Homo sapiens: one gene and its partner. The protein of the gene in region 2 interacts with the protein of the main gene of each other region in a pairwise test. Each region holds a gene or a part of one and is shown on either strand. Other genes may lie near its edges.

Region 1 (3,500 bases), on a different chromosome or scaffold from region 2:
AGATAACTAGATGACAGAAGAAAGACCTAAACAACTATTGTCAGCTCTTAGATTTCTTTTGCCTTGGATCTAGTAGTGATACCTAATATAAGGCTTATTCAGCCATTTATTACCCAAAACTTGATTAATGGAAATTTAGAGAGATCTATTGACTATCTTCCAAGACAAACATTGACAAATATAATAAGAAAGCAAAGAATATGTACATCTCAATTAGACACCAAACATGGGTTAATGTCTGCAGCAAGGAAGATCAGGGAGTAAATTCATTCATTAGACTCCAATTTGCATTCCTGCTATACATTTTTAAAACTTGTTTGTCTTGTCTAATGTCCTTTCTTTCCATTACAGTCATTAGTACCTATCAGCATTAATATGCTTTAATTTGCTAATTATGTTACATGTTCACAGTCTTATTTCAAAGCTGTTACCGATAAGCTGTCCTTACAGAGGCTGTATGATAGAAGAAAAAGCCAAAGACTTGGCTCCAAACAACCTTGGGCTTAAATGCCAGGATTCCATTCAAACTCTATAAACTTGGATAAGCAGAACTCTGTGAGCCTTAGTTTTGTCATCTGTTAAATGAGATAAATAGCAATATCCAAGATCAGTGTAAGGATCCATGAAATACCTCATGAAAAATGCCTAAATTGGAGTGGTGATTAACAACTGAGTATTAACTGGCTCCTTCTCAATTTTTAAAAATATTTTGGCAACTGTGAGGGAACTACAGGTTTTTCCTTAAAAATACACATTCACTGCTTTAACAAAGATTACTTGTTGAACAAATGTGTATATGACGTGGTAACTTCTTTAAGGAGTTTTTTTAAATAATTAGAGCATTTGGAAATACATTCTGAGCATTTGGGGTTGTCACATTAACACCACTGTCAGTTAGCCTCCAAGAATAAGGAATGAAGTTCCCTTGTTGCAAATACCAATAACACCCTAATTGAGAAACATGGAGTGACACATAAGCCAATAGGAGTGTATTTAAGTAGTGTGTCTTGTAATTCAACCCTGATTATAGATGGGATGTGAGTTCAGAGAAAAGAAGGAAAATTACTGGGCTACAGGGATCAGAGAAGTCTTTATGGAAGAGGTGGCATTTGAGATGGCTCTGGAAGGATGAAGATAATTTGAAAAGTAAAAGTCAAGAAGGACAGTATTCCATGCATAAAGGACAAGACATAGTGGCTGGGATGAGAATGGCATGGGTTTGGAGAGGGGCCAAGAAGGGGCACATAGAGTGGGACTTATGTGATGGAGCGACTTAGTTGTCTGAAATGAATGATGTATTTGTGGGAGTGGTAAAAAGTAAGACTGGATTGATGTGTGAAAGTGAAAGAAGAGAAAGAGACAGAGAGACAGAGAAGGCTGTGGAGGATCCAGACAATCAGGCAAAGAAAGGAATTTGCACTTAATGCAGAGGCAACAAAGAATGTGAGTGATGAGCAGGGAGCAGCAGTGATGAAATGGTGTTCAGGGATGAGAAATCTGACAGCCGTCGGGGAGGCAGATTTGAAGAGAGAGAGATTGGTGGAAGAAAGACCACTTTGGAAGTTGTTAGTAGTGATACAGGCATGAGGCAGTAAGATCCTCTATCAGGAGAATTTAAAGTAAAGAGTATACCAGAAAGATGTTTCAAAGAAAGAAAGGGTGTGATGTGAACATATTAGACATAAAGGATGAAGAAAGGACAATTCAATATGGCCCCAGGATTCTGAGTCTGGAAGAATGTGGTGCCCCGATCAGTGGGAATGAGAACAGTGAAGGGGAGCTAGTTTTGTACAAAATTAGTGACCTGCTTTTTTCTTCTTCCAAAATAGTTATTTTCTTAAACCTTTGAAAGGTTCAAACCTCCACCTTCTATAGCCAAAGGACTTTAATTTTAATATTTTCTCTGCATTTTTTTCTTTTAGGAAAGTTTAACTTACAGTTTAATAAATACTCATCTGGGTCAGGTCTTTCTAATCAAGTTCTTAAATTCAAATGTGCATAGCCTAAAAGAGAAACATTTAAAAAGGAAGTAAAAGAGCATTTACATGTAAGGGACAAATGTGAGTTTCTTCCTTATTTGTTTTTAACTTTCATTCTCTATGCAGAAAATCCAGGCCAAAATCTTTGTTTTCTTTTATTCAGAGATTCAATTATATTTTAGGAAAACATCTAAATGTTGGGTAAATTCCGTAAGATAAATTACCCAAACTTATGGCTTGGAATTGTGTAAACTAAACGGATTATCTGACTAAATACATTGCTTTTATAGTTTGTTATTTTAATATAAAGGAGACATTGTTTAAATTATCATATTTGTCTCATTTCAGCTCTATCTACACAATGCCTCAAGAGTCCCTCAGTTCAGTCAATTCAGGGGTTCAACATTATGTAGATACAATATCTCTATCATTGACTGTGTATTTCTATGTAATTGATTGGATTTTTGGTATTTTGAAAGCACAGAAACACCTGAACATCTTAGTAAAATGTAATATCAATAAATACATTCAATTCAAATATGTACTTTCTACAGGATGCAGAAATATGCAGAATATTTTATAGATTTATAAAACAGGCTACCAGTTTTATTATCAATGGAGTTGCTTCAATAATTTTTTTCTTAATTCTTACACAATAACAAGTAGAGAAACCATGTAACATAGTCTTAATAGAAGCTCTAAGAGTAATGGCAGAATTTTTACTATGGAATTCACTTGACTCATCAAGCCTTAAAAATATCGGTCTTTGTTTCCATGAAACTATTAAACATCTAGAAGGAATATTGGTAGCCCAAGAAACAGAAACAACTTTCCTTTTTATTTATTATTTATTTATTTATTTTTATTTTATTTATTTATTTATTTATTTTTGAGATAGAGTCTCCCTCTGTAGCCCAGGCTGGAATGCAGTGGCAGTATCTCAGCTCACTGCAACCTCTGCCCCCAGGATTCTAGAGATTCTTCTGCCTCAGCCCCCTGAGTAGCTGGGATTACAGGTGTGCGCCAACACACCTGGCTAATTTTTTTCTATTTTTAGTAGAGACAGGGTTTCACCATGTTGGCCAGACTGGTCTTGAACTCCTGACCTCAGGTGATACGCTAGTCTCGGCCTTCCAAAGTACTGGGATTACAGGCTTGAGCCACCGCACCCGGCACAACTTTCCTTTTTAAAGTAATGCACGCCTTTTGCTGTTATTGGTGATAATGACAATGATGCTATAAAAGCAGTCATGTGTATTATGGAAAATATAGAAAACTAGGAATAGGCAAAAGCCATCTCTTACCTCCTGACCCCACCTCTCAAAGACCAAAATCATCATCATTTTGTTATACCGCTTTTCTTATGTTTTCACTGGATCTTTTTTTTTTTTAAACACAATTATAGTCAAATGTATATGTAGTTTTGGCTTCCTGGTTTTCCACATACAATTTTGGAAATAATATTCTCAAAGAGAAAGCACAAGGCAAAGCAAAAGAAAGTGATCAGGATTAAGTTTGTTT
Region 2 (4,231 bases):
GATTACAGGCCTGAGCCACCGCGTCCAGCCTGTATGGAATTTTTTTTTTTTTTTTTTGAGACGGAGTCTCCCTCTGTCGCCCAGGCTGGAGTGCAGTGGCGCGATCTCGGCTCACTGCAAGCTCCGCCTCCCGGGTTCACGCCATTCTCCTGTCTCAGCCTCCCGAGTAGCTGGGACTACAGGCGCCCGCCACCGCGCCCAGCTAATTTTTTGTATTTTTAGTAGAGACGGGGTTTCACCGTGTTAGCCAGGATGGTCTCGATCTCCTGACCTCATGATCCGCCCGCCTTGGCCTCCCAAAGTGCTGGGATTACCGGCGTGAGCCACCGCGCCCGGCTGCCTGTATGGAATTTCTATGAGAAATTATTGCATACTTTGTTGTCGGTTAGACCTGGGGTAAATCCCTGCTGCTGTCATTTATCTGCCGAAGTATTAGACGCATCTGGCTGAGCCTTAATTCATTCATCAAGCATTTATTGAGCTTCTACCATGTTCCAGCCCCGATCCTGGCACGGGGGCCCTGCTGTAAACAAAGCTGTTCTCTGCCCTCAGGAGCTTGCTCTCTGATAGGAGAGACAGGGACTGCAAGCTCAATCCCCACCAGAAGCGCTGTGAAGACAAAACAGGGTGATGTCACAGTGACTGGAGGAGGGGGCACCTTTGAGCAGGGTGGTGGTGGTGGGGCTCTCTGAGGAGGCAATACCATTGGTGTTTAAGAGTCAAATAAATGTTGCTCGTCTAGCTCTTGGTCCAGCACCTGACAGATATTAAGCGCTCAGCAAATCTCATAGTGACCCTAGTTGTCATTTTCATTAGTTTACTGTCCTCGCCACCGGGAGAACATGAGCTGGGGAGGATGCGGGGCAGGCTCGACGTTTCTCCTCTTTGGGCGCACAGCACAGAGCTGGCACACAGCTGATGAACACATGGCACCCGAAACCTCTGCACACAGTAGGGCTTGATAAACCAGCCCACTCTCCATCGGCCTCGCTAGGGAGCATCGTACAGAGCACCCGCCAAATGCTTCCTGGCCTCGGCCCCAGCCCGGCGCCCTGCCCTCGCGTTCCTTGCACACAGTGGGCGCTTAACGCTGCCGGCTCAAGAAATGCCCATTTCTGGGCCCTGCCTCGGCCCATTGCATGGGCCCGTGAACCGAAGCCTAGCTGGGCGGCGACGCGCCGCGAGCTCCCAGTGGGCTGGAGCCGGGAGCCCTGCCGGGGCTGAGCTGGGAAGGCGGGCACGCGCCTCCGCCCCAAGCTTCCGCGCCCAGCTGCGTCCAGCTGCGTCCCAGCCTCCGGCTCGCGGCGGTTGGCTGCGGCTCAGCGACGTCCGATTGGCCTGCGCGGCTCCGGCGCGAGCCCCGATTGGCTGTGACGCGCGGCCGGGCGAGGACCCCGCCCGCGCCGCCGCCGCGCCCGGCGCTGGGCGGTCATTGGGCGGCGTGATCTCGCCGCGGTTCCGCGGCCCTGCCGCCGCCGCCGCCAGCAGAGCGCACCGGGCCGATCGGGCGAGTGGCCATGGCGGGCGCCGAGAACTGGCCGGGCCAGCAGCTGGAGCTGGACGAGGACGAGGCGTCTTGTTGCCGCTGGGGCGCGCAGCACGCCGGGGCCCGCGAGCTGGCTGCGCTCTACTCGCCAGGTAAGACCTCTGGGCCCCCCTCCAGGCCTGCGGTCACCAGCCCCGGCTGCGGACAGCGACCCCAGACTGGAGTCCCAACCTCGGGCCCAGATGCGGAACTCCAGCCCGGGTGTCTAACTTGCAAATAGCAAGTTCGGGGACCCCACCCCAGTGTCCCTTCCGAACCCAAGCCAGAACCTTGGCCCCGGGGTTTCCTGGCTGCAGAGACACTCCCCAGATCAAGAAATTACCATGAGCTCCCTGGGCGACAAACGGAGCTCCCATCGGACCCGCAGATACGGAATCCTAGCCCCGGGGCATTCTCGGTTGTGAAGAGTGCTCCTAGACTTAGAACCCCACCCCCTCATCCCCCCAGGACCCGGTCCAAGCCCAAAGCTGCCCTTCAGCTGTAAGCACTGCCCTCAGGCCCCTAAAAGTCACACCTCATCCTGGGTTCCCCAGATCTGGAATCTACATCCTAGTACCTCCTCTGTGCCCTAGCCCAGGCCCTGGGCTGCAAACAATGACCTCACCTCCCTAACCTGGGAATGTCAGCCCCTCTGCCCAGGGAACCCTAACTCAGGGGCTTCCAGCTGCACGGTACCCCCCACACCCTTCCCCCAAAACCCCATCCTAGTGATAGCTTCAGTGGCTACAGACCGATATCCTCTCCCCAACCCTCCAGTGGTGAGCATCAGTCCTTGCCCCATATTCCTGGATCCCAGGCAGTGAGGGGACTGAATGTACCCCACTGTAAGCTCCCCTGTACATAAGCCCCAACTCTAGCTCTTGCCCCTCCCTCACATCCATGTATTGGCCCCTTCCTTAGGACTTGGGACTGGAACCCCCATATTCCCCAGACCAGATCATAAGTTGGAGTTCACCTCTCCCTCTCTGTCCCTTTCCCTCAGGCCACGGTTTCTCCCTAGCTTCTTCCTGCTTTGCTCACTGTATATGCTCCAGCAAGCACCCCCCCTACACCCACTTTTGTGACTCCTACGTGAGCCCTAGGAATTTTACTGTTTGGCCTCAGGAGGGCCCTATATCCCCAGGAGTTAAGGAAGTGCCTTTGAGAACTCCTGGTTCAGGTGACTGGGAGGCACCTCTACCTGGGTGTCACCATGGAATGAAGCTTTGTTTGTCAAATATCCTGACATCCTTCCTTTTTCTGTGGGGCAGCCACCAAGCACCACATGCAGCCCTTGCCTGGAGTGGGCCTGGGGTCACTAGCACCTTAGCTTTCTGCCCTCACTGGCCTGGGTTCCATGCCGTCTCTTCCTTAAAAGGCGGCATGGCCACGGACCATTTGCATTTCCTCACTGGGTCCTAGACCACTCCATTCTCTGTATGTGATTTTTCACACCTGACTTGGGCACCTGGTCCATGCCGCTATGGTTTCTTCAGGCCTATACCCAAGACACCCAGCCTATGGACTTAAAACCTCCTGCTCTCCTGGGGGTAGGCCAGGGTTAACATCCTGACTCTGTTATTCAGCTGTATGACCTGGTCCAAGCCACTTTCCGTCTCTGTTTCCCCTTGGTTTCCTTGCAAGTTAAAGTTTATCTGCCCCTTCGTGTTAGGAAGTGGAAATGAGATCGTCCACTGGCATTCAGTAGGCACTCCCTGTTGTTGTGTGGGTTTTTTTGTTGTTTTTTGTTTTGTTTTGTTTTATTTGTTTTGAGATGGAGTCTCACTCTGTTGCCCAGGCTGGAGTGCAGTGGCGTGATCTCGGCTCACTGCAAGCTCCTCCTCCCGGGTTCACGCCATTCTCCTGCCTCAGCCTCCTGAGTAGCTGGGACTACAGGCGCCCGCCACCATGCCCGGCTAATTTTCTGTATTTTCAGTAGAGATGGGGTTTCACTGTGTTAGCCAGGGTGGTCTCGATCTCTTGACCTTGTGATCCGCCCACCTCGGCCTCCCACAGTGCTGGGATTACAGGCGTGAGCCACTGTGCCTGGCGCCTCCCTGTTGTTAACAGTAGTCTGACCTTTGCTGTGGGGGATCCGCCTCACCTCTCTGGTCCTCAAACTCCCCACCTGGGAATTGGGGATAAGGATTCAAGGGCCTCCCTCTTTAGTGTCCAGCTCTGCCTGCTCCTGTGAACCCTACCTACTTTCAGACAGCCCAAATCATTCCCAGGCATTCTGAGCCTCCCCAGGGATTGCTGTTTCCCCACTCCACCACGATCAATTGCATATTTGTCCATTTCTGGTTTCCCCAAGTGCCCTTCACTCTCTGAAGAACAGCCATGCCTGAATCAGAGTCTGCAGACAGCCTGGTGCCCCAAATCTGCAATCAAGGCCCTTTATCTCCTCCAGACCTGGAGGTAGGGGAGGAGACTTGCCAAACTGGTTTCTCCAACTTCCTTTCCACTGGCCTCTCTGCTTCTATCTGCTCACTGTGTGATCTTGGGGAAGTATTTGACCTCTCTGGGCCTGAAAAAGTGAGAGACCAGGCTCAGTGCATATTGAACACCTATGTTCTAGTCCATGTTCTAGGCTCTGGGGGCAGAATGGTGAACAAGACAGAAAAAAATGGAGCTGGCCGGGCGCGGTGGCTCACACCCGTAATCCTAGCACTTTGGGAGGCCGAGGTGGGTGGATCACTTGAGGTC

Evidence for each region. The genes of interacting proteins can lie anywhere in the genome.
Region 1: the proteins of PEDS1-UBE2V1 (region 2) and TRHR interact in a two-hybrid assay, tested with the Homo sapiens proteins (one large-scale study listed by BioGRID).

Annotation. Positions count from the first base shown.
Region 1 is NC_000008.11:109,089,585-109,093,084, forward strand, and holds part of TRHR (thyrotropin-releasing hormone receptor), read left to right. Parts: intron 1-3,500. UniProt on the Homo sapiens protein: Receptor for thyrotropin-releasing hormone (TRH). Upon ligand binding, this G-protein-coupled receptor triggers activation of the phosphatidylinositol (IP3)-calcium-protein kinase C (PKC) pathway.
Region 2 is NC_000020.11:50,150,924-50,155,154, reverse strand, and holds the start of PEDS1-UBE2V1 (TMEM189-UBE2V1 fusion protein), read left to right. Parts: upstream 1-1,431; 5' UTR 1,432-1,517; coding exon 1,518-1,638; intron 1,639-3,839; exon of another isoform or gene 3,840-3,943; intron 3,944-4,231. Other genes in the region: PEDS1 (plasmanylethanolamine desaturase 1), read left to right, coding at 1,518-1,638.